Linked DNA regions of Homo sapiens. The protein of the gene in region 3 purifies or fractionates together with the protein of the main gene of each other region. This does not show direct contact. Each region holds a gene or a part of one and is shown on either strand. Other genes may lie near its edges. The genes, in order: PDCD7, ZCRB1, ZMAT5 and RNPC3.

Region 1 (6,868 bases), on a different chromosome or scaffold from region 3:
ACGGCATCACTGCACTTCAGTCCGGGCAACAGTGCGAGACTCTGTCTCAGAAAAAAAAAAAAAGACTCAGCTTACGTGTCATTGTATCATTTGGGAAGCATTCCCTCAGTAAATCAGATGTTCCTTCTTTGGGCTTTTACAGCACCTATAGTTGAATTCCTAACACACACCACGCTATACTGACATGATCTCCCACAGATCTCTAAGCCAGGGGTCAACAAACCCCAGGCCACGGATGGTAACCAGTCCATGGCCTGTTAGGAACCAGATCACACAGCAAAAGATGAGGCAGGCGAGCAAGTGAAGCTTCATCTCCATTTACAGCCACTCCCCCATTGCTTGCATTACCACCTGAGCTCCGCCTCCTGTCAGATCAGCAACAGCAGCATTACATTCTCATAGGAGCACAAAGAAGTGAACTGCGCATGGAAGGGATCTAGGTTGTGGGCTCCTTATGAGAATCTAAAGCCTGATGATTTGTCACTGTCTCCTATCACCCCCAGATGGGACTGTCTAGTTGCAGGAAAACAATCTCAGGGCTCTCACTGTTTCCACATTATGGTGAGTTGTATAATTATTTCATTATGTATTATAATGTAATAATAATAGAAATAATGAGGAAGAGGAAAGGGAACCCCAGAGGCAATCAAAGGTAATGAAAATGCCTTAGACGGCCAGGTGCAGTGGCTCACGCCTGTAATCCCAGCACTTTGGCAGGCTGAGGCGGGTGGATCACCTGAGGTCAGGAGTTCGAGACCAGTCTGACCAACATGGAGAAACCCTGTCTCTACTAAAAATACAAAATTAGCTGGGGTGTAGTGGTGCATGCCTGTAATCCCTGCTACTCGGGAGGCTGAGGCAGGAGAATCGCTTGAACCCGGGAGGTGGAGGTTGTGGTGAACCAAGATCATGCCATTGCACTCCAGCCTGGGCAACAAGAGCGAAACTCCATCTCAAAAAAAGAAAGAAAGAAAATGCCTTAGAAAACCATCTGAACAATTTCCAGTTTTACCCTGGCCCTGCTTAAAGAGTCTGAGATCAATACGCTTTGGAATTAGACAACTTGGGATCAAATATGGGAAACTGCCACAAACTCGTTGTGTGACTGTTGGCAAGTTAACCTCTCTATGCAACTTCCTAACCTGTAAAATTAGCATAATACTTCCTACTTCTCAAGGCTGTTATAAAGATTCAAAATCTGGTATATGTAATGACCTTAGCACACCTCTCTCTATATATACACAGATACATACATATATATACACACATACACATACATACATATATATACACATACATATATGTATGTGTATATATATGTATGTATGTGTATATATATATATATATATAGTAAATGCTCCGAAACACCATTGCTGAACCTGGGGATACATGGTTTAAAACTTGTAAACAAAAGAATCCTAGGGAAATCACTATTGCCCCATCAGCTAATTAGAGTATATATATTCCTTGAGGTAGGGTCCCCAAGTTCTCTATTTTTTTTTTTTTTGAGACGGAGTCTTGCTCTGTCGCCCAGGCTGGAATGCAGTGGTGCGATCTCGGCTCACTGCAACCTCCGCCTCCAGAGTAGCTGGGATTACAGGCGCCCGCCACCACGCATGGCTAATTTTTGTATTTTTAGTAGAGACGGGGTTTCACCATCTTGGCCAGGCTGGTCTTGAACTCCTGACCTCGTGATCCACCCGCCTCCGCCTCCCAAAGTGCTGGGATTACAGGCGTGGGCCACCGCGCCCGGCCTGTATTTTGTATTCTTAAAACCACCTAGGGCAGTACAAGACACAAGGAACTAGACACTTACTGGTTTTGAGAGTAAGTGGACAATGTTGGAGCAGGATAGGGGAGACCTGTCATTCGTGCAGTGCCACCGTGTAATCCTATACTTTGTGTTTACAGGATTTTACAGTGCACCTGGAACTTTTGTGTACCACACATCATTAACACAAAATTAACATGGTGGTATGAGCTGGGAAGGTTAGCTATCGCTTCATTTTGCGCGTAAAACAGAGGCTTAGCCCTGGGAAATGGAAGTTTAAAGCCTCCTGCTGCTCCAGGTTCCAACCACCACCACTCCTACCCCCATGAGCGGCCGCTGCTCTCACCCGCTTCTTCTCCTCCACCTCCTGCACACACTTCACCCTCCAGCGGTCAATCTCCTGCTCGCGTTCCACTGCCCGCGCGGCCTCTGCCTCCCGCTCGGCCTCGCGTTCCCGGGCCCTCTCGCGAAGCCGCAGCCGGCGGCGCCGGACCCTCTCCAGCCTCCTCCGCGCCTCGCCCACATAGGCAGCCTGGGTCAACGGCTGTAGCCGCTCGGCCAGTTCCGCGCGCAGCGGCGCGGTCTGGGAGTACAGCAGGACCCAGGCCGCGCCGTCGGCTTCGGCCTCGCGCAGGGCCTGGCTCAGGCCGCGCAGCCGCCGCACCAGGCGCAGAGCCCGGAGCAATCGCGCGCGCACTTCGCCAAGGCTGGGCCCGGCATGCGTGCGCTGGGGCACCGGACAGCCTGCCCGCCGCGGGGTCCCGAACACCGCCTCCAGCCACTGCCGGTCGCGCAGGCGTTGGAGGGCCGCATCCCCGAGCACGTCGGCCGGCGGCGGCGGCGCCTCAGGCCACCGCGGGCTCCAGGGCGGCCCCGGGCCGGGAGGCGGTGGCCGCGGCCGCTCGCCGGCGTCGGTCCCCGGGAAGGGCCGACACTGGGGCGGCGGAGGAGGCAGCGGCGGTGGTGGCACCGGGTAGAAGGCGCCAGCGCCGCCTCCGCCGCGGGAGGCCTCCGCGGAGGCTCGGGGCTGCAGAGCCAGCGGAGGCTGAAGGAAGGGGGCGGAGGCCCCCGGAAAAGGGCCGGGCCGCTGGGGGAGAGGCGGCGGGAAAGCCGGGGAGGGCAGCGGCGGTGGCGGACAGCCGAAAGGAGCAGGAGGCGGCGGCTGCGGGGGCGGTGGGCCTGGGCGACCCTGGCCGAAGAATGGTGGCAGGGCCATGTTCACGACGGAGATGCTTTGAGAAGTGACAGGAATCTGAGTGGCTCCTCATGAGAACCTTCCGACGGAAGTGACGTCGTTACGACGCGCGACCCCTGTAGACTCGTCCCTCCGGAAGGCTCAGTGCATAAGTGGGCAGTCGTTCAACCTTCTGTCGTTCAGTTCATAAATACCGTTCTTATTGAGCATCCTAGGTGCAGAGCTACCCACTCCGCATACAGTGAGACTGAGAGATACAGAGCTTCTCTTCGTGGAACTATCTGCCTAGTATAACACACTAATCAATTAATCATGGTGAGTATCTTCGAGAAGTTGGAGAAGGTTATCCTAAGAAACTGCGGCTGCAGCTGAGATCTGGAAGATAAATAGTTAAATAGAAAAAGAGAGGGAAGCACAGTGCAGATGAGAACATGTGCAAAGGCCCTAGTAAATAGGAGTGTGACCAACTACCCATTTTCTTAGAAAAATGAATTATTTTTACTTTTCTCCTTTCACCCCACCTCCTATTTAGCTCTTTAGGAATGCAATTATAGGGTGGGTGCTGTGGCTCACGTCTGTAATCCCAGCACTTTGGGAGGCCGAGGCAGGCGAGATCGGCCTGTAGTCCCAGCCATTGGGGAGGCTGAGGTGGGAGGATCACCTGAGCCCTGGGAGGTAAAGACTGCAATGAGCCACGATAACGCCACTGCACTCCACCCTGGGCGACAGAATGACACCTGTCAAAAAAAAAAATCCAATTAACCTTTACCTTCTCTCCACCAGACACTCTCTACACTGTAAGCTTATCTAATTATGTGTTCGCTTATTAGTTCCAAGGACCGAAGCTTAAACCAGGGACCTCTGGAACTTTCCCATACCAGGGGATTGCCTGGGGACAACTGTCAATTTACAACCTAGCTCCCCGCTACCCCCCACCCCCCCTCCGCCTTCGCCCCAGCCTCCATGGCGCCAACCAGATCACTGATGGATACATAGGAGCAAGTCCCATAGACCCAGCACCTCCTTGGTCCCTCCCCACCCCTTGCATGCCATCCAGGTCAACCAAGTCCCGTGCACCCCCCACTTTTTTTGAGACAGAGTCCCTCTGTCACCCAGGCTGGAGTGCAATGACGCACTCTCCACTCACTGCAACCACTGCATCCCAGGTTCCAGTTATTCTTGGTGCCTCAGCCTCCCTAGTCAGTTGCTGGGATTATAGACCCCTGCTGCCACGCCTGGCTAATTTTTGTGTTTTTAGTAGAGAGGGGGTTTCACAATGCTGGCTAGGCTGGTCGTAAACTCCTTACATCAGGTGATCCGTCCACCTTGGCCTCCCAAAGTGCTGGGGTTACAGGTGTGAGCCACCACACCTGGCCACTTTCTTTCTTTTTTTTTTTTTATGAGACAGAGTCTCCCTGTGTCGCCCAGGCTGGAGTGCAGTGGCGTGATCTTGGCTCATTGTAAGCTCTGCCTCCTGGGTTCATGCCATTCTTCTGCCTCAGCCTCCCGAGTAGCTGGGATTACAGGTGCCCACCACCATGCCTGGCTAATTTTTTTGTATTTTTAGTGGAGATGGGGTTTCACCATGTTAGCCAGGATGGTCTCGATCTCCTGACCTCATGATCCGCCTGCCTTGGATCATGTTGGGATTACAGGCGTGAGCCACCGTGCCCGTGGCAGTCACTTTCTTTTTACCATTCTCTTACTTGTTATTTGAATTTGCAAGCTGCAGGGAACTGGACCTGCCTTAGGTTACAGGACTATGTCTAGTGGGAAGCCTGATAGAATGCCAGTTTTGGCCTGTAATCCCAGCACTTTGGGAGGCCGAGGCGGGTGGATTGCCTGAGCTCAGGAGTTCAAGGCCAGCCTGGGCAATATGGTGAATTCCTGTCTCTACTAAAACACAAAAATTAGCCAGGTGTGGTGGTGCGTGCCCGTAATCCCAGCTACTGGGGAGGCTGAGGCAGGAGAATTGCTTTAACCCAGGACGTGGAGGTTGCAGTGAGCCGAGATCACACCACTGAACTCCAGTCTGGGAGACAGAGCGAGACCTTGTCTCCAAAAAAAAAAAAGAATGCGAGTTATGGATGGAGCTCTGAGAGGAGTCTGGTGATCCTGGTGAAGTGAAGTCCTAATGTCTGGGGTCTCATATCTTATGAACAATGGGAAACTATTTTGTTGTTGTTGTTGTTGTTTTGAGACCAAGTCTCACTCTTGTTGCCCAGGCTGGAGTGCAATGGCGCGATCTCGGCTAACCACAACCGCCACCTCCCAGGTTCAAGCAATTCTCCTGCCTCAGACTCCTGAGTAGCTGGGATTACAGGCACACACCACCATGCCCGACTAATTTTGTATTTTTAATAGAGACGTGGTTTCTCCCTGTTGAGGTTGGTCTCGAACTCCTGATCTCAGGTGATCTGCCTGCCTCAGCCTCCCAAAGTGCTGGGATTACAGGCGTGAGCCACTGTGACCAGTGGGAAACTATTGGTTTTAAACAAGAGGTAAAGAGAAGCCTGTGCCACCTGATTAGATTTTTAAAATTAAACTATTTTGAGACAATTGTAGATTCATATGGAATATGAGAAGTAGTAATACAGGGAGATTCTGTGTACCCTTTACCCAGTTTCCCCTAAGGGTAACATCTTGTAAAACTGTAGTACAGTATTGTCAGAGGCATTTGAACCAGAGTGACTCCATCTTGAGTGAGGGCTAGGAAAAGTGAAGCTGGGACTTGCTTGGCTGCATTCCCAGGAAGTTAGGTATTCCTAGCCTCTAGATGTTTATGGTTAAGGGAACAGACTAATAACATTTACTAAACAGACCCGTACTTAGGAGTGTCCTGAGATCCCGATATTTTGAGAATAGAAGCATTCCTAATTTTGCTTTAAAGATAATAATGTTGATTCTTGTAAAATATAGTAATTTAAAAAATTAATCCTTTATCACAAACCCTTGTGGCAGAGCACATCTCCCCATGATCTTTTTTTATCCTATATATAAGCAAGCATTCTACCTAGGGTGGACACGTTTCTCCTCTTACTTTCAGGAACGCCCTACTGTCTATGGAGTAGATATTCTTTCACCACTTTACTTTCTTAATAAACTTGCTTTTGCTTTGCACTGTGGACTTGCCCTGAAATCTTTCTTGCACAAGATCCAAGGACCCTCTGTATTAGTCTGTTTTCATGCTGCTAATAAAGACATACCTGAGACTGGGTAATTTATACAGGAAAAAGGTTTAATGGATTTACAGTTCCACATGGCTAGGGAGGCCTCACAATCATTTGGAATGCTGGGATTACAGGCGTGAGCCAGTGCACCCGGCCCCAGACCTCAATTCTTGACTTTTGCGCACCCGCAGGCTCAACACCATGTGGAAGCTGTGAAGGCTTGGGGCTTGCACCCTCTGAAGCCACAGCCCAAGCTGTACCTTGGCCCCTTTTAGTCACGACTGGAGTGGCTGGGACACAGGGCACCAAGTCCCTAGACTGCACACAGCAGCGGGACCCTGGGCCTGGGTCATGAAACCATTTTTTCCTCCTAGGCCTCTGGGCCTGTGTTGGGAGGGGCTGCCGCAAAGATCTCTGACATGCCCTGGAGACATTTTCCCTATTGTCTTGGAGATTAACATTCAACTCCTCGTTACTTATGCAAATTTCTGCAGCTGGCTTGAATTTCTCCTCCGAAAATGGGATTTTCTTTTCTATGGCATTGTCAGGCTGCACATTTTTTGAACTTTTATGTTCTATTTCCCTTTTAAAACTTGATGCCTTTAACAGCACCCAAGTCACTTATTGAATGCTTTGCTGCTTAAAAATTTCTTCTGCCAGATACCCTAAGTCATCTCTCCTAAGTTCAAAGTTCCACAAATCTCTAAGGCAGAAGCAAAATGCTGCCAGTCT
Region 2 (7,030 bases), on a different chromosome or scaffold from region 3:
CTGGACTCTGTTTTTTAAGTATTTTATTTTATGTTTATTTTTATTTTTGAGACAGAGTCTCCCTCTGTTGCCCAGGCTGGAGTGCAGTGGAGTAATCTCGGCTCACTGCAACCTCCACCTCCTGGGTTCAAGCGAGTCTCCTGCCTCAGCCTTCCAAGTAGCTGGGATTACAGGCACCTGCCACCATGCCTGGCTAATTTTTTTTTTGTATTTTTAGTAGAAACTCAGTTTCACTATGTTGGTCAGTCTGCTTTTGAACTCCAGACCTCAAGTGATCCGTCCACCTCAGCATCCCAAAATGCTAGGATTACAGGCGTGAGCCACTGTGCCCGGCCTGTTTCTTAAGTATTTTTATGGTCATTTTACAAACTTACACCTGTGAGAACCAGACTAAAATTCTCTTGGTACCAATACAGACCTTATACAAAATTATTCTATGGCTGTCTCTCTCTCTTCATCACCAAAACTTTAAATGGATAATGACAGATCATGAAGAGAACCAAAGAAGAAAATGTGGGGATAGTTCAGTTACAAAACACTAGCAATACTAATAGGAAAAAATAAAAAACTTCAAAACACAATATCCCATAGAGGATAAAGTCACATGATAATGTTGCTATTGAACTGTGACTTAAAAACTGTTAAAGAAACAGGCAATATCCTATTAACAAAAATTTATGAGTTACGAAAATCTTGCAAGACAGTGACATAAGTAATCAGTCTAACACTTTTAAAACTAGTGATTTTCAAAGATTTAGGAACTAGAGAAAATACCACTTTGTATTACCCAACTCAGGTTATCTTTACACATTGCATTTCAATTGAATTTACTTTGATGAGTTTAGAGACCCTAACAACTAGGCCAGGCACCATGGCTAACACCTGTAACTCTAGCACTTTGGGAGGCTGAGGTGGGAGGACTGCTTGAGCCCAGGAGTTTGAGATTGGCCTGGGCAACATAGGAAGACCCTGCCTCTACAAAAAAATTTAAAAATTAACCAGGGTGTGATGGTGCATGCCTGTGGTCCCAGCTACTCAGACACTGTGGTGGGAGGATCAGTTGGGCCCGGGAGGTAGAGGCTGCAGTGAGTTGTGACTGCATCACTGCACTGGGTGACAGAGGAAAACCCTATCTCAAAAAAATAAATATTAAAAAATAAAGCATTTTCATAATCTGGTTTAGCCAGTCAGAAGTTTTGGTGAGCAAAAATAAAAGACTGATGTGAAAAGTATCTTAAACTATGGAAAGTTCCATTAAGTTTTAGGTTTACTTACCCCACATTCATAACACTTAGATTTATCAAAGTAGTTTCGCCTTCGGATGAACTCAGCTGCTCTTCCATTGTCAATAGCAATGCTTGCTTTTATCACTCTACCAAATAACTAAACAAGAGAAAAATGTAAATGTAGAATGTATTTCACTGAAACCTAAAATTAATTATTTAATCAATTTTCTCAAATCTTCAATTCCAGTTTATTTTGGATTTTTTAGCAATTGTCACTTAGGTGTGATAAATTCTATTCTGTAGTATTCTTATTCCTGAGATTCCACCAATGTTTTGAGAACCCAGTAGTTTGACCTCTTTTCTTTCTATAAGTTAGATATCTTAAGAATCTACTGATATCTGCTAGACCTGATGATCCACTATATCCCCACATTTTTGGCCTGGATGAGCATAAAGGCTTTGGGGCTAAAAACCTTGATGGAGATGAATAGCTTACCTGTTTGTTGTTTATTGCCCTGGTACAGTTTTGTGCAGAGTCTTTATCCAAAAATAAAATAAATGCAACCCCTTTACTCTTCCTGGTATCTTTATCTTTCATGATGGTAACCCTTAAAGCATAAACAAAGAGTTAAAAATGAGGCAGCAATAAATAAAACAGATACTAATACTTGAAAAATTCATTTTAAAAAGGGCTAAAAATTTATAAGATAAATTAATACATTTGAAAAATCAGCTATCTCTTCAAAGTCAAGGGATATCAAGAATGGAAATGGGAAAGGGTGATACTGATTTAACAGAAGTGAGCACAGCTATGATTAGGAGTTAATCAGAGATTGAAGGGTGAAGTAAAGAAATTACAGAGACAATGAAATCTTAAAGTGTAACCACAATCCCTCTTCCATGCTAACTCCCTCACCTTGCAAAACAAAACAAAATAAAGGTATACTTTACACAAAAAGTAAAATGATTTATTTATTTTTCTAAGTGTTAGAATCAAAGTATATTCTTAATATTCTTTTAAAGAATCTTCAGAAAAATAAGGAAAAAAACCCTCCAGAGCTGGTTGTGGTGGTGCGCACCTGTAGTTCCAGCTACTTGGGAGGCAGAGGCAGGAGGATGCTTGAGCATGGGAGTTTGAGAACAGCCTGGGCAACATAATGAGACCCCGATCTTTAGGGAAAAAGAATCTCCAGTTCTGTGGTTTTTAGCCATACCACCCACCAGGGTGTACCTGAGTGACAAGGAGAGTTATGAGAGCACAGAGCCTGCTCTTTCTCCTGCCCCATCCACATCCCTAGTCATGGAGGCCCTTGCCCACCGTATGTCATTTAACATAGTTTAAAAACAATGTTCAACAGGGCTCTTTGGAGAAATAGCGGATTCCAAGGCTACAGCAGGGCAGGTACAAGAGGAGCTTGGAACATCTTATGCCAGAAGGTAAGAGAGTGCAAGAGTGCGTGAGCGAGTGAGAGAGAGAGAGACGGAGGGAGGAATGAATGAATGAATGATGGGGCCAAGAATACAGCAGCCAGCTGGAAGGAGCTCCCACTGGCCAAATCAAGGACAATTTGAGCATCAAAATAATTCATTACAGTAATAAATTATAAGCCACAGAGAAGGTAGGAATTTATAATTCTTACTGATAAAAGACCAATAAATAAGTGGAGGAGATGGGAGGGAAGGCTCTTGCTTACAACAGAATGCCAAGGGATGACTGGTGAATGTAGAGGGAATGCTGGAGTTGGAAAAATCACCAATTTGACAGAAATATTGAATAAGGTAGTTGCTTTATGTTTTGGAATTTTTCGTAATGTTTGTGAAAGTTATCAGTCTTTTTTTTTAAAGTAGTATTTCAAAAGAAGTATTGGCTTTCTACATCATCCTCAATTAATGATCTCTCATCTGTTGCCTCTTTTCCAATTCCACTGCTTTTTTCTTGTCCATAGGGGCATTACTGTTTTAACAGTCTATTCTTATTGGTTCCTTTATGGTAATTTTTTCTCTTATAATTTTCTCATATCCTTAAGTAGTCTTCTACTTAAGGAATAAATAAAATCACACCATTCCTTTGTTCAAAAATCTTTGGTTCTGTAAGTTGCCTATTCTTTGTCCCACTGTCAGTATCCTTGATGATTTGGCTCCCATCTCCTTCATCTTTCACTGCTCCTTCCCACGCACACACTATGAAGTCTACCCAAAAGAAACCACTCAATGCTCCAGTAGCATGGCCTGTATTTCCCCAAATTTGTGCCTTTGTTCATACAGCTTCTATCTTCTTCCACCTCTGAATCACTGCTCATTAAAATTTTCCTCATTCTTTCGGGGTTCAGGTCAATGTGTCAGTTTCTAATAGCTTCAACTGGATATAATTTCTCCTCCGTTATGCTAGTCTCTGCTGAATTGTGTTATTCATAAACAATGCCTCATCTCATCTATTTTAATGTAAACTCCTTTAAGGCTGTCTCTGTAATCCATATGTGCCCAGCTCAATATGTTGATTGATAGATATACCTTTATATTCAATGGGAAAGACAGACCAAAAAAATGGGAAAAGTAGTTTCTAAAAGAGTACATTGTGTGTGTTCATTCATTCGGTCACTCAGTCACTCTGTTAGCCTCAAGCCCATGTGCTAAGCACTAACAGTAGTTTTTACCCTCAGGAGAAATCTTACAGTTTAGTGGTAGAGACAGACCAACAAACCAACTATCATACAATACTTTGATAGAGATACCTTCTGTGGTAACAGAAAAAAAAAATTACATCAGAGATTTAAAAGGACAAATCTACTGTGACTCCCATGTTTCTGGCAAGGGAAAAGAGGTAGATAATAGCACCATTTCCTAATATAAGGTATATGATGTACTTATTTAAGCACATAATATGAAGCATACACTATTTTGGGAAACCTGAATGTCATCCATAACACCTCCTTCTTGTTCACAAAGTCCTTATACGCAAAGTAAGCATATCACTAAATAGTACCCACTTTGCTTCCTATACACATCACTATTACCCACTTTATTTCATAATGATCTCTGAAATCTGACCACCTCTCAAATCTGACCAGTCTCTATATCTCCACCTGTACTATTTTAGTACACATTTCTCCCCTGGGCTACAGTTTTAGATTCAGACTGGTCTCACTGCATTTGCTTTTTTCTTTTTTTTGCGATGGGGTCTTGCTCTGTCCAGGCTGCAGTGCAGTGGTGTGATCTTGGTTCACTGCAACCTCCACCTCCATCCGCCTCCTGGGTTCAAGTAATTCTCATGCCTCGCCTCCCAAGCAGCTGGGATTACAGGTGTGTACCACCAGGGCCGGCTACTTTTTGTATTTTTTGTAGAGATGGGGTTTCTCCATGTTGGCCAGGCTGGTCTTGAACTCATGACCTTTCAAGTGATCCTCCCACATCGGCTTCCCAAAGTGCTGGGATTACAGGTGTGTGCCACTGCACCCAGCTGCATTTGCTTTTGTTCCCCTCCAATCTAATTTCTACATTAAGCCAGAATAAACTTTAAAAAATTTAAATCATGTCACCCCTCACTTAAAATTCTTAAATGATTCCTGATATTCTTAGAATGAAAACCAAATACCTTGGTAACCTGACCAAGAAGTAAGATGAGGAACCTGCTTCCATCTCTGGAGCCACCTTGTGCTTTCTCCCCCTTACTCACTCATCTCCAGTCACATTGGCCTTCTTTCTATTTCTTGATCTCACTTTATTTTCTCTTGCCACAGGGCCTTTGCACAAGCTATTCCCTCTACCTGAAATATTCCTCCCTTATTTTTGCCTACTTAACTCTTACTCATCCTTTAGGTTTCCACTCAAAAAATACTGACCTAGGTAAGCCTTCCCTGGCTCTCTAGACTAGATAGTCTTCCCTGTTTCTAGGTGCTTATAACTCTCGTGTCTTTAACTCCATTGCAGTTTCATGGTTTAGGACTATATATTTATATGGAGATCCATTCAGAGATTCTAACAAAGTGGAAAAAGAAAAAAGGTAAAAGGGAGTGGGCTCTGAAATCTCACTGTTGGATTCAAATATTTTCTCCACCACTAGCTAGCAAGATGACCTTAGGTTTACTGTGTGCTTCAGTTTCATCATGTATAATACTGAGATGATAATAGTACCTACCTTAAAGGGTAGTTGTGAGAATTAAATAATACACATAAAGAGATTAGAACAATGCCTGGCATATATATGTGCTCATTTAAGTATCACATACCATCATCATTACCAGTGTTTGGACTGATGACAATGACTTTTTAAAATCTGAACACCCAAAAATTTACACAGAAGCATTTTTGATAATGCTTTTTTAATAGCAAAGTAACTGTAAAAGAAGTTAGTAATTTCAAGATGCAAAAGAGCTTCAACTGTTTAATATCCATTTATGGAACACTAGAAGAAATTAGCCAAGATAAATATGCTCAAAATTCTTGGGATTTTAAATTTATATCAGAATCTATATTGGTTACAAGAAAGTTAGGATGACAGTATCCTGTTACTTTTTTGCCCCATAATATAGTTGCTTGATTTAAAACAGTGAAATACGAGAAGTTCAAGTTCTTTTTATTGTTCCTAACCCTCAGCCCTGTTATCATCCATTACCATTTTTGCATGTTTCTAGTCTTTCCAACGATCTCCAAGCTATCTCTGAAGGAAGATAATATGTTTTCTATTTAAAAGACTCATAGCATCCTGCAAGTCAGATGCACTGAAATATTTGTTTTTACACTATTTATATGAAAAAAAACAAAACAAAAAACCACCTATTTATTTGAAAGTAGGTTACTTATAGTATACTTGATAACACACTTCCTAGTAACCAAAATATTTGTTTACCATTAGCTATGAGGATGTATCTTTATAGCACATGGAAAGACATTTATGGTATGTCAAATTAAAAAAGAAAAGAAAATTGTATGTATGTAATAGTCTTTAAGAAAAATTGTCTACATGTTTATGTACATGGAAAACCAACTAAATTGTCATAAAAATGTTAATAGTATTTTCTTTATTATATCAAGCATGTTTTATTTTTAAAAATCTGTCATTAAAAAAATGTAGAAGCAAATTCAGATAAACTTTTAAATGAAGTTACAAAATTTAATGTGAATACTTACTTTACAACTTTGCCATACTTGGAAAATATCTGAAACAAAAGACCAAATATTTACAATTTATTTTAAAATCATAAAACATCAAATTTTTAGGTTGCAGACATTGACCAAATTCTTTGTTACAGTTTATGAATAATTTCAGCCTTCAGTCTATAAGACAGGCCCTAGGAAAAAGTTTTTTTTGGTTACTAGAATAATATACTTACTGTTGTTGGAGTCACATGTATCTGTCTGTTTCTAAATTTGACAATGGAGTAAATACAGAGAAAAAAACTCACTCTACACATGTGGTAGATCTAAGGCATACATACTGGACAGCTGCTGTGTTCCTGAGGTATACCCATGGCAACTATCAACTCCATCATAGTGCCAGATACACCTGTGCTTCAAATGTCAATCTTATGGAGCAGCACTTTTCCAATTCTACCCTCACCACTACCTTGTTATTCCTATTAAGCAATCCCTGTTTGAGAAGGCAAATCCTTAGACTGCTTTATTTAAAAAACAAAACAAAACCTCATAAAATAAGCTTTTATAATGAAAAATCCATTTCTATCAGTCTTCTTCCTCTGCCCACCATTAACATGTTGGTGGAACTTTATACTTGGCTCTCTCTTCTGTTACTTTTACTTTATCCTATGCAATCTCATTTATTTCTACAGTTCCAGCTCATTACCCAT
Region 3 (7,030 bases):
AAGACCAGCCTGGGCAACATAATGAGACACCAGCTCTACAAAAAGATAAAAAATATTAGCTGGGCATGGTGGTGCACAGCTGTAGTCACACCTAGTTGGGAGGCTGAGACTGGAGAAGGATCACTTGAGCCCAGGAGGTAGTGGCTGCAGTGAGCCATGATTGCACCACTGCACTCCAGCCTGGGTGACAGAGCGAGACCCTGTCTCTAAAAAACAAAAAAACCCAAAGTCCCCAGACTCTCCAGCTGACTCCCTCGTGCCAAGTTGAGAACTGCTGGCATGAAACTTGGTCCTTGTCTTTGGCCCGTCCTGCGTGGGGTGGGATGGATTGAGGTCACCTGCAGCTCGGATCCATCTGCCCAGGACTCCCACCTGTGGTCATCTCCTGCTTCCACTCCTCCGTGGAACAGGAAACTCTTCTTTCTGCACAGCTGTGTCGAGATAAAGGGTCCATATGCCCCTGTGGCTTCCACTTCCTGCCTCCTTTGGTGGAGCCTGAACCATCCGAATCCCGTCCCTCTCTTCTCTCGCAGATGCAGCTGCCATCTTGCTGGATGAGCAGAACAAGCGGCCCTGCAGGAAGTTTCTACTGACAGGTAAAGTCCTCTGCACAGCTCAGGTCCCTGCGGGGACCTGCGATATCCAGCCTGCCCCACTTGGACCTCTGCAGAGTGTCTTCCCCGACCCGGGCCACCATCCCAAGCCCACTTTGCAGCAGTGGCTCCAGCTGACTGGCCAGTCAGGGCCTTCCCAAGTGTGTCTCAGGACCTCCTAGAGTCTGGTCCTCAGCTCTTCAGATCTAGAATGTGATTATATCAGCTCACCTAGAACAAGCAAGGCGTGGGAGATTACATGTAAATCCAAGAGACACTTATGGGTGGAATAGACTTGTTGATTAAGTTAGCCTGGGAACCTGGCCTCCTTCCCAGCAGGCAGAACTTCAGAGAGTAACAGGGTTGATGATCTGAGGAAGTTCAGGATCAGAACCAAGGATGCTAGGTGTAGATTTGACTGCTCAGTACTCAGCTACTAGAGATGCATATAGGTCAGAGAGATAAAGGGCCGAGCATGGTGCCTCACTCTTGTAATCCCAGTACTTTGGGAGGCTGAGGTGGAAGGAATGCTTGAGGCCAGGAGTTTGAGACCAGCCTGGGCAACATAGCGAGACCCCATCTCTACCAAAAAAATTTTTTTTAATTAGCTGGGCATGGTAGCACACACTGGTAGTCCCAGCTACTAGGGAGGTTGAGGCAGGAGGATCACTTGAGCCCAGGAGTTCAAGGCTGCAGTGAGCTATGATTGCACCACTGCACTCCCACCTGGGCAACAGAGTGAGGACCCTGTCTCTTTTAAAAAAAGACAGAGCAAGAGGTAAAACCTCAGTAAGTGAAGGAACCAAAGACAGATACAAATAAGAGTAGGAAAAATAAGATAAAACCAAGAGAATAGTCTCCTCCATGCTTGCCCTTGAGGTCCTATGTATTCTCTAAGGGTTTGGCTCTGAGCTTCCTGGCAGCCATGGCAAAGAGGAAAACTATGATGATTCACATGGTTTGTAAGGGAGCTTAGCACTGGGGAGAGGTGCTGCAGCTGAACTAGGGAAACTGGGTGAATGTCCAAGCTCCCCTAGGATGGGCACCAAGCCTGCAGATCAGGGGCTTCCCTACAGACTTTGCCTTGATGTGAATATGTCACTGGTAGGTTATCCTGGCTTGAGACACCTCCAGCCTCCCAGTATCTCGACATACATTTTGGTCTCCTTGGTTGAAAGAGGGGAAGCCACCCCAGATTTTGGTGCCTCTTTGGCAAAGCTGCCACTGAAGCCTTTCTAAGGAGCAGTCCAATTGCTCCCGTGAGCCAGGTAGGCAGGCAGAATACTAGGCTGGGCATAGCACGTGCTGCGGCTTGGAGTGGAGAAAGGAAGCATTGCCCTTTCAGGAACCCATATGTAGTTCATCGAGGCAGGGCTGGGAGGGCTGGTGACAGAGACAGCCTGCAGAGGCTTGCGAGGCCCAGTCATGACAGGCTTCAGTTGGAAGTGATCCCCAGCATGGGGGGCAGCTGGAGAAGGGTCGTGAGCATGTGGCATGATAGGTGAGAAGTCGCTCTGGCTGCTGAATGGGCAGGGCCGGAGAGATTCCATTTTCTGTCCCGGATCAGGGTTGCTATTCTTTAGGCCCTGAAGTCCTGCCCCTAAGATTCTGGGATCCCTCATCTGGGCACCCCTCAGCCCCTGTGGGGAGCCCCTCCCGAGCAGCGAGTAACTCTGTCTTCCTGCTGCAGGCCAGTGCGACTTTGGCTCCAACTGCAGATTTTCCCACATGTCAGAGCGAGACCTGCAGGAGCTGAGCATCCAGGTGGAGGGTACGTCTCGGGATGCCCTGGGCTAAGCGGGAGTGGGGTGCTGGGGCATGTGGGCTCTGAGACCGGGGAAGCTGGCCTATGCCTCCCTATCTCCCCATCATTGGCAACCAAGGGCCACCCAGGGTGATGCGGAGCCCTGAGCCCCCGGTTTGGGCCAGGTGTTAGGAACAGCTTCAGCATGAGTGGAGAAGGCAGGCCTGTGTCCCCTTACAGTGGAGCCTGTGTGGCTTCCTGCCTGGGAGCCCTGAAGGTGCACCTCAGCCCCACCTGGACCCTGTGGCCAGCCCAGCAGTCATTGGTGGGTACACCCCATCCCTTCCTCAATCAGGCAGCATACCCAGTCCCCACTTGGCACCAAGCAGACCCCTTACGACAGTCTAGGGATAAGGAGTTTAGGAACGCACCTTCCCTGCCCTCTGGAGTCTCACAGCCTGGTGATTCCAGGGAGGGGCAAGTTCAGCTTCCATGGAAACTGACATCTCGCCTTTGGGAAATTCACTCCTCTAGTTAGAGAACAAGGAAGTTCTGACTGAGATGGTGTTTATCAATCTTCTTCCACAGCCTCTCACTGAACAGGTGGGGAAACTAAGGCCAACATTCAGACTGAAAGGCCTCGCGTGAGCCCCCCAGCAGGTTGGGGGCAGACTCCAGGTCTCTCAGTGCCTGCCCCCTTAAGCTTCTCTGTCCAGGAGGCCTCAGGGTAGCCAGTGAAGGTCTGGGGCAGCTTGGCCTTTGCCCTGATCCCCCTACGGGCCTCACTCCCCTCTGACCAGTTAGACACTGCAGGCTCCGTGCCCTGCCCTGGGAGCCAGTGGTGCTGTGGCTGCAGCCCCGGGACCAACACAGGGTTTCCAGGAGCATTTTTCCCCAGGGTGGAAGCAAGGCCTTGTGGGACTGGCCAGCAAGTCCTGGCAGCAGCGGCAGCTGCAGCTCTTCCCTGGCTATGGGCTCTCAGAGGACGGCTGGCCCATGGTGGGACGAGCACGGGGCAGTGGGCCTGGAACTGGAGACGATGCCGAGCGGGGACAGGAATGGGGAGAGGCCCAGGGAGGCTGGGAACAGAGTCCCAGCTGGCAGCTCTGACAGTCCCAGCTCTGCCACGTCCTCTGTAACCTTGGTACGTGGCTTAACCTCTTGGAGGCTGTGTCCTGTCGAATGTGATGTCTCTAAGGATGAAGCAAGATGACACCTGTACAGCCCAGGGCCCGGCCCCAAGTGAGCTCCAGAGACCAGGGCCCGGCCCCGAGTGAGCTCCAGAGACCGAGGCCTGGCCCCGAGTGAGCTCCAGAGACTGGGGCCTGGCTCTGAGTGAGTGCTAGTCAAGTGTATGATTACTTTCCTCTGGCCCAAGACTCCATCCCAGATGACTTGGCGACTCTGACCCCATCAAACGCTCACACCCAGCTTGTATAAATTCCATTCGTTGATTGGTTTTAATTCGTTGAGCAACAGGTTTTGTTGGACAGCTTATGAGAATAAAAACCAGGGAAGCTGAGGCTCATTACCCTGCCCAGGGTCAAAGACCCGGCAGGTGACAGAGCTGAGATGTGACCCCATTCGACTGCCCTCACTGCCTCCCTGCACCTCAGATTCAGACCCCTCCTTAGGGCCAGGCTCTCTCTCTCTTTTTTTTTTTTTGAGATGGAGTTTCACTCTTGCCGCCCAGGTTGGAGTGCAGTGGTGCGATCTTAGCTCACTGCAGCCTCCACCTCCTAGGTTCAAGCGATTCTCCTGCCTCAGTCTCCCAAGTAGCTGGGATTACAGGCACCCACCACCACACATGGCTAATTTTTTTTATTTTTATTTTTAGTAGAGGCAGGGTTTCTCCATGTTGGCCAGGCTGGTTTCAAACTCCTGGACTCAGGTGATCCGCCCGCCTTGGCATCCCAAAGTGCTGGGATTACAGACGTGAGCCACCACGCCTGGCCAGGGCCAGGTTCTCTACAAGCACTGTCCTGTTTCCAGCTCCCCAAGAGCTTGGAGGCAGCCGGGGTTGTCTCTATTTGATGGGAAAACAGAGCGAGGCCGAGTGCTGGGCCCTCGTGCACAGATGGCCTGGAGAAGCAGTCCAGGTGCATCCTCCTGGAAGGTTGCTGCAACTTCCCAGGCTTGCTCAGGGCCTACCAGTTGCTTCTGCTTTGTGAGAGGGTAGGGTTCTGGCAGGCAGGAGTGTACCCCTCACTTGCCTTTGTCTCCCTGTCCCCACAGAGGAGAGGCGAGCCAGGGAGTGGCTACTAGATGCTCCTGAGCTCCCCGAGGGCCATCTGGAGGACTGGCTGGAGAAGAGAGCCAAGCGGCTGAGCTCAGCCCCAAGTAGCAGGTACAGGTCCCCAGGGTTCCCTCCCGCTGTGCCCCCTGGGGGCAAAACCCCAGCCCGCCTTCCCCTTCCTGAGGCTCAGGAATCTCCATGAACTGCCCAGGCCCAGGGGCCGAATAAAGTTGCCTACACATAGCTCCCCGAGGAGCCCTTGGGGCCCCAGGCCCTGGCCAGAGGCTGAGGGGTGTTTGAAAGAGCCTCTCCCAAAGCTGGGCCCCTGTTGGAGTCTGTGCTGGCTGGAGGGGAGGCAGGCGGCAGAGCTGATTTGGCTGCAAGTCACAAGTCCGTTGCCAGAGGGAGGGGCCTGGGCTGTGGTCACCATGCACTGCTGCCCACTGTTGCCTCTAGGGCCTTGCAGAAGGGAAAACAGGGAGGGTGCGACTTGCCCGAGGGCACACAGACGGGAAAATGTAGAGCCGGGATTGCACAGGCGTGATGACGAGGTCCTGGTCCCACTGCCTTTCTAAGGAAGGGGGTCTGGAGATGGCCCCAGCCCTCGGGACGCTCACAAGTAGAAGGGGAGCTGCTGGATCGGGGTCCTTGGGGTGTGTGCTTCGTGATGTCCCTGGTCCTCCTCTTTGAGGGAAGGGCCTCGGGTGATATTCACATCAGAACGGGGCACAGGGCAGGCAGGGGCAGACAAAGGCTGGCGGCCAAAACCGAAGCCTGAGCTCCTGGGCTCTTCCTCCAGCAGTTGAAGGAGGGAGGGGAGGAAAAGGGGATAAAGCTGCGCCCAGGAGCCGCATGCGACTTTGAACACGTTTTCCCATCCCGACTACCTTGCTTTCCCCATCTTGCAACGGGCTTCAGACCTGACTACCTCTGTGGTGTGGCTTCACAAAATGGTGGCCTGGCCTGGGCCAAGGGGACCTGGCCAGATAGTCTGGGGGAAGAGGCCTTCCCTTGGAGCTCTGCCAGGAGGTGAAGGCCAAACTTCTTGCCTTCTCTGTGCTCCAGTGAAAGAGACTATGAGGGTGTTTTTTTTCTTTCTTTCTTTCTTTTTTTGTGATGGAGTCTTGCTGTATTGCCCAGGCTGGAGTGCAGTGGTGTGATCTCAGCTCACTGCAACCTCTGCCTCTGGGTTCAAGCGATTCTTCTGCCTCAGCTTCCCAAGTAGCTGGGATTACAGGCACCCACCATCATACCTGGCTGATTTTTGTATTTTTGTAGAGATGGGGTTTTACCATGTTGGCCAGCCTGGTCTTGAACTCCCGACTTCAGGTGATCCGCCTGCCTCGGCCTCCCAAAGTGCAACGTGTTGGGATTACAGGCATGAGCCACCACACTCGGCTTTTTTTTTTTTTTTTGAGACGGATTCTTGCTCTACCGCCCAGGCTGGAGTACAGTGGTGCAATTGTCTCATTGCAAACTCCACCTCTTGGGGTTCACGCCATTCTCCTGCCTCAGCCTCCTGAGTAGCTGGGACTACAGGCACCCGCCACCACGCCCGGCTAATTTTTTTGTGTGTTTTTAGTGGAGACGGGGTTTCACCATGTTACCCAGGATGGTCTCAATCTCCTGCCCTCCTGATCCACCCGCCTCAGCCTCCCAAAGTGCTGGGATTACAGGTGTCAGCCACCGCGCCCAGCCTTTTTTTTTTTTTTTTTTTTTTTGAGATGGAGTCTCGCTCTGTCACCCAGGCTGAAGTGCAGTGGCACGATCTCGGCTCACTGCAACCTCCGCCTCCTGGGTTCAAACATTTCTCATGCTGCAGCCTCCCAAGTAGCTGGGATTACAGGCATGCACCACCATGCCCGGCTAATTTTTGTATTTTTAGTAGAGACAGAGTTTCGCTGTGCTGGCCAGGCTGGTCTCGAACTCCTGACCTCAGGTGATTCACCTGCCTCAGCCTCCCAGAGTGCTGGGATTACAGGCATGAGCCACCGCACCCAGCCAGTAAAGGTGTTTTAAAACTAACTTTGTCTTTTACCTTTATTTTAAATCCGTGTTCAGTTTTTGTCTCCCCACCTTAAAAGTATATGTGGTACAGACATGACTCAAACGTTGGAGTGTGACATTCTCTCCTCCTGGTCCTGTCTGAAGGGTCCCGTCTAAAGGGGTTCTATCCTGTCTTTGTGCATGTGAGCACCTCCTTTGGGACTGGTTGCTGTCCAGGGATCCACGTCCTACACCCCAGACTCCTTCAGCCCGTGTGCAAAAGGCTTGAGCTGGTTGGAGGCTGCCCAGAAAGCTCTGGCCCCTGCACCGCTACTTGGACAGGATCTCCTATGAGTCCCATCCTCACTCTGCCACCTGCTAACCGAGTTGCACCAGCCACTCGCCTCCCTGCTCTGGGTCCATGGTGTCCTCCGCTGGGAGCGAGTCACAGAGGCCCGGCTGTCTCTTGGG
Region 4 (6,071 bases), on a different chromosome or scaffold from region 3:
AAGACTCTTTAAGAGTTGTCTTCGATACTCACTATATTAAATTCTTCTTCAAAATTCTCTTGAATACCCTTACTCCTGACATCCACCAAGTTTGTCAACGTCAAGTTGACAAAAAAGAATGTTTTCCTACGTATATACAGCTGAAACTCATTTCATTAAAGGAACAGAATAATTTTATGTGGGAAATATTTTCACCTTTGAGTGACGTTCTGACAGATGAAAGATTTGGGGGAACAAAAATGGAAGACTGTATTACAGCAAGGATACAAATTTCTAAATTGGGATAAACCCCCATTTCCAAAAAACCAAAAGCCCAGTAAAACTCAAAGCCAGACAAATATAAAATAATTACAAAAAACAAGATTACAATAAAAAAAATGTGAAAGTGCTTTGGTATCCAGGTAAGAATTTTTAAAAGGCAGTATTTGTAATCATAAAAAAATTATATTACAAATTATATATATTTTTTATAATATTATGTTTTCCTAGATGTGTTAAACCAGATAAAGAAAAAATACAAACACTATTTTATTGGAAAGGAAACAATTTATTATATTTGAGGAAAATCATTAAAATACATGTAATATGTTTCCAATTCACTGATTTAAAGGCATATAGATTTAATTTTTAAATACACTTTCAAAGCTGTTACGCACAGTTCCATAGTCCAGGTGGTCAATTTCTTCCTCTCAAAGTTAGAAAGCACTTGAAGGACACGGGATTCAAAAAAACCTAAAACATCATAAAAGCCCATTAAAAATAGGAAGTATAACACAGGTCATTAGTTTAAAAATAACTAAGAGCTGAACCATTTATATTTAGAAAATTAGTGAATCATGTCAGTATAACAAAATTTATCTAAATAAACCGCTTATAAAGAAACTGATTTATAACATTTACAAAATCTTTTTAACTATGCCTACAGAAAAATAATTACATTTTCAAAATCTATAGGTTTTGTACTTTTAAGGTGATAATAACCGAATTTTCAATTGTTTTCACAGATCTAATAATAGTAGCAGATTTTTCAACAAAGAAACACAGAGGCTCCAACCCTTTATTTTCCTAGTTATTAATATAAGGTTGGATGGCTAGGTTGATACTAGGTACCTAATCATTTTACTCTAACAAAGCAGTGTCTAAACTGGTCAGTCCTTAAAATTACTAAAGAAACCTTTTCAAATCTGATTGTTATACTCCATTCCCAGAGATTCAGATGTATTAGTTCTAGGGTAGAGTACAGGAATCTTTATGCATAAAAACTCTTCCTTGGTGGTTCTCGACCTTGTTTGTATATTAAAATCAGTTTGAGAGGTTTATTCCAACATCTGTGCTACACTCCCAACACCTTAAATCAAAATTCTGACCAAAGGAACCAAGCATCAATATATTTCTTAAGGATTTTTTTAGGAGGGAGAGGGTCTCACTCTGTCACCCAGGCTAGAATGCAGTGGTGTGATCATGGTTCACTGCAACCTCAACCTCTGGGGCTCAAGTAATCCTCCTGCCTTAGCATCCCAAGTAGCTGAGACCAGAGGTGCAAGCCACCACACTTGGCTAATTTTTGTATTTTTTGTAGGGACAGGGTCTCCCTACATTGCCCAGGCTGGTCTCAAACTCCTGGGCTCAAGTGATTCTCCCATCTCGGACTTGCAAAGTGCTGGGATTACAGGTATGAGCCACTGCACCCTTTTAAAATTAGTATTTAAGTTCCAGATCACTGCAATGTGCAGCCAAGACTGAGAACCACTGTTCTTGGTGATTACGGTCATCAACCAGTCTGGAAACCACTATTCCTATATACCTGCCAAGACTGTTTTTCCTTAATGCACTACCCTTAGTGGGCATTATGTGTTCTCCCCTCTATTACGCTTTTCTTCTCTTGTTTAGAAAAAGAAAGGGGAAAGAAGAAAGATACTTCTATTGCTATCTATGTCAAAAGAGATTCACTAAGACTTCAGATGAGAGGTCTGCTACTCTCTAGAATTTACATAGTAATCCAGACATCTTAATTTTCAATGTAAGTACTTTTTAAAAGAAAAACATTTCCTTTGCCCAAATTTTAAACACATTATAAATACCTAAACCAGATATATTACACAACAGAAAGCATATGTTATTGAATTAGGTTTAGGAAACATACAAATAGAAGAAACAAGACTGTATTCTGGGTTAAAGTAAATGAACACATTCTCTAAGTAAGTTGACCTGATTCACTAACTTTCCCTCAAAAAATTATATAAAGGACAGCACAGAAAATTCAACAACAAATCTAAAAACACATAAAAGATCTGTTCAGTCTATACAAATAATTTTAGAAATATTTCATTTGAATAAAGTGTAAAAAAGTATTCCTTAACCTGGATCAACAGGTGGGGGAAGGACAAACATTTCTAGGAAAAAAACAAAAAAACACTGCCCCAAAAAGGATACGACAAGAAAGGATACACTTTGCATGACAGTATTACAGCAGTATTTACGCAGGAATGCTTCTAAAGAAGAACAGCAGAATGCAGTTTAATTTTTTTCTTATTTTTCAGCACCAGATTTAAAATAAATGATGTTTAAAAATACAGACTGAAATCCATCTTTCCTCTAAAGTGTTTATAAGACTTGTGACTACCCAGTATAGACGTACAACAAAATTCAAATATTCAAGCCATCTCAGAAGGACTAAATATTAAACAAAATTTTCCCTTATTTACCCATATTTGGCAGTTAAACACCAGTAATTGTGACCAATTACTTCGTGTTCTTTTAGTTTACAGAGGAACAAAAATTTAAATAAAAAACAAAGGAATATATTTCTACTTATTTCTTGAACAATGTAACAAACATTAACATTTAAAATGCTTAATTCTACCATATTTAATCATCAAATTAAGTATGCACTAAAATTACCTGTTTTAAAGACAAAAAATATTTAACTCCACAAACACATATTGTTGTGAAATGTGTTAATAATTTTATATACTCAGCACTGTAGATTTTTTTTTTTTTTGAGATGGAGTCTTGCTCTGTTGCCAGTGTGGAGTGCAGTGGCGTGATCTTGATCTCGGCTCACTGCAACCTCCACCTCGCAGGTTCAGGCGATTCTCCTGCCTCAGCCGCCCACGTAGCTGGGACTACAGGTAGGCGCCACCACACCCAGCTAATTTTTGTATTTTTAGTAGAGAGTCGGTTTCACCATGTTGGCCAGGATGGTCTTGATCTCTGGACCTTGTGATCCGCCCACCTCCACTTCCCAAATTGCTGAGATTACAGGGGTGAGCCACCGTGCTCAGCCAGAATTATTTTTAATGACAGTTTGACTTTTTTTTTTAACTTTTATTTTAACATTTACTTTAGGTTAATTTTAAGAGTTAGAAAATGTATCTGTAAGTGTTTATTCCAGGAGTTTTCAAGCTGTGGTCTCTGGATAAGATGCCTCATCATTACCTGAAACCTCATTAATCTCGCAAATTTTCAGGTGCCAACAAGGGTGACCGACCTGTCTTGGCTTACCAGACACATTCCCCATTTCAGCACTAAATGTCCAGCATCCTGGAAATCCCCTCATTAAAAGGAAAACTGGTATAAACAGTTTCCCTAGGTCCCCACATCAGACCTACCAAATCAACTCTTTCAGGGAAGGAAGGAACCTACGAATCTGTGTTTTATTAGGCTCTCCAAGTGATATGATACATATTAGGGTTTAAGAACCATTGCTTTACTATAGGCAGAAAAAGTTAAAAAAAGAGTAACAGGCACACTCCCCTTATAAGATTCATTCTCCAAACTTAATTTTCACATATAAATGGGTTTTAATCTGTAGTTATAGTTTTGACGTTTAATGGGACTTAACTGCACAGATAGGTATTTCCTCAAAAAAAAAAAAAAAGAGATACCTGAATTACTACCTTGTCAAACTTTTATTCTTAATTTTATCTCAAGAATTAGTCTTGTCTTTTTATTATGTTTTATTCACACTTACCTTTATTAATTTTTAACACTTTCTTTTTCCTTCCTTAGGATCTTGTTTTGGTCTAGCAGATCGAGCAAACTGCTAATAATTTAAAATTAAGGTTTCCTTCATGAATATGCAAGTAATCTTTTCTAAATAATTCTCAAAAACTTTCTAGTGTATGGTGGGAGTATGGTTTTTTAATTTACCTTGAGTGCCTCCTGCCTCTCTTCATGACTTGAGAGGAAATTAATAATTAACTTTTCCTTTACAGTCATTATTTTTTATACCTGGGCCTTTGCTTCTTTACCTATCTTGCTGATTTCTAGTTTGCAAACTGCATTGACTACTAAAAGCAAGATGGTTAATCAATGATATACTCTAGTTATTAAAATTCTCATGTAGAAATATAAATTACAATAAAATGATAAAATGAATTAGTTCTTTTATGACTCCAAATGTACTTCTGGATACTCTAGTCTCTTAGCATGCCTATGTACTTTTGAGCTGCATAAGTGAAACATTTAAACTTGGCTGAAATTGAACAACCTCATGCTGCTGAAGCTCTTTTATTAAAAATCTAAATAACACTGTCATCTGACTCAGTAAGGTGGGTTTAATTGTAACGAATGAATATCTACTGCTAGAATGCCAATTGTGGAAATTTCTAAAGGGTAACATGAAAATTAATTTCAGTTATATCCTTCTAAAAATTATATAGTTTTGAAATAGATGGATTTAAAGGATACAACCACCATGGGTTTTCCAAAAAGCACATATCCATTAGCTTCCTTTAAGGCTTTTGCTGCTGCTTTTTCATTAGGAAGTCCAATGAAAGCTTGTCCTTTCATACGACCTTCTTTCATCAAACGTATATCAAACCTAGAAGGAAGAAACAGTTTTGATTCAAAGAATGTCAGTTTCAATGTGAATGAAAATGTGTTGAATAATCTAACATTTTGCTATTTCAAATAAAAGTGACTACACTATTTGATAGGCACGTCAATTATTCAGTTTTCTAAAAATATATTTCATGTTCTGCACTAAAATTGATTCTACAAGTAGGTAGTATTTGTTTAAGATATACTTTTAACTATTCTCAACTATCATAAAAGTATGTGATTTAAAAATTATACTATTAGCAACTAGAAAACCAAACTTCTTTTTTTTTTTTTTTTTTTTGAGACAGAGTCTCACTCTGTCACCCAGGCTGGAGTGCAGTGGCATGATCTCCGCTCACTGCAAGCTCCATCTCCCAGGTTCACGCCATTCTCCTACCTCAGCTTCCCAAGTAGCTGGGGCTCCAGGTGTCCGCCACCACGCCTGGCTAATTTTTTGTATTTTTAGTAGAGATGGGGTTTCACCGTGTTAGTCAGGATGGTCTCGATCTCCTGACCTCGTGACCTCGTGATCTGCCCGCCTCGGCCTCCCAAAGTGCTGGGATTACAGGCGTGGACCACCGCACTGGCTGCAAACTTCTTAAATTACTATTTATCTCAATTTTTTAAGTTCCTTACAATCTGGCACTATCTGCTCAAGTGATTAAAAAAACAACTACTACTACATAACCAAGAATGGAAAAATAGAAAGGATTAACAGCCAGTTATAAGCAATTATAGAATTCATTATATTATTATTATTATGATTATTATTATTTTTGAGACAGAGTCCTGCTTGGTTGCCCAGGCTGGAGTGCAGTGGCGTGATCTTGGCTCAGTGCAACCTCCACCTCCTGGGTTTAAGCGATTCTCCTGCCTCAGCCCCCCGGGTAGCTGGGATTACAGCCGTCTACCGCCATGCTTGGCTAATTTTTGTATTTTTAGTAGAGATGGGGTTTCACTATATAGGCCAGGCTGGTCTTGAACTCCTGACCTCAAGTGATCCCCCCCGCTTCGGCCTCCCAATGTGCTAGGATTACAGGCATGAACCACCACACCTGGCCTAGAGTTCATTATATTATTATAAGCAATTACAGAACTTCGGAGTAGAAAGGAACCTCAATGATTATCTAATTAAAACCATAATTTTACAGGTGATGTCCAGAGACAGTGAGTGACTCTTCAAAGCAGATAGCTAAGATCTAAAGTCAGAAACACAAACCAAATTTTTAAATTCCTAATATAGTGAT

The links.
Region 1: the proteins of ZMAT5 (region 3) and PDCD7 purify together in Homo sapiens (affinity purification with mass spectrometry; 2 studies listed by BioGRID and IntAct, with this or other methods). This does not show direct contact.
Region 2: the proteins of ZMAT5 (region 3) and ZCRB1 purify together in Homo sapiens (affinity purification with mass spectrometry; 2 studies listed by BioGRID and IntAct, with this or other methods). This does not show direct contact.
Region 4: the proteins of ZMAT5 (region 3) and RNPC3 purify together in Homo sapiens (affinity purification with mass spectrometry; 2 studies listed by BioGRID and IntAct, with this or other methods). This does not show direct contact.

The regions. Positions count from the first base shown.
Region 1 is NC_000015.10:65,130,795-65,137,662, forward strand, and holds the start of PDCD7 (programmed cell death protein 7), read right to left. Parts: upstream 3,015-6,868; 5' UTR 2,988-3,014; coding exon 2,118-2,987; intron 1-2,117. UniProt on the Homo sapiens protein: Promotes apoptosis when overexpressed.
Region 2 is NC_000012.12:42,316,065-42,323,094, forward strand, and holds part of ZCRB1 (zinc finger CCHC-type and RNA-binding motif-containing protein 1), read right to left. Parts: intron 6,383-7,030; coding exon 6,354-6,382; intron 1,835-6,353; coding exon 1,723-1,834; intron 1,384-1,722; coding exon 1,276-1,383; intron 1-1,275.
Region 3 is NC_000022.11:29,735,984-29,743,013, reverse strand, and holds part of ZMAT5 (zinc finger matrin-type protein 5), read left to right. Parts: intron 1-533; coding exon 534-596; intron 597-2,283; coding exon 2,284-2,364; intron 2,365-4,572; coding exon 4,573-4,684; intron 4,685-7,030.
Region 4 is NC_000001.11:103,549,695-103,555,765, reverse strand, and holds the end of RNPC3 (RNA-binding region-containing protein 3), read right to left. Parts: intron 4,826-6,071; coding exon 4,693-4,825; intron 4,046-4,692; coding exon 3,986-4,045; 3' UTR 3,974-3,985; intron 1,123-3,973; exon of another isoform or gene 733-1,122; 3' UTR 527-732; downstream 1-526. UniProt on the Homo sapiens protein: Participates in pre-mRNA U12-dependent splicing, performed by the minor spliceosome which removes U12-type introns. U12-type introns comprises less than 1% of all non-coding sequences. Binds to the 3'-stem-loop of m(7)G-capped U12 snRNA.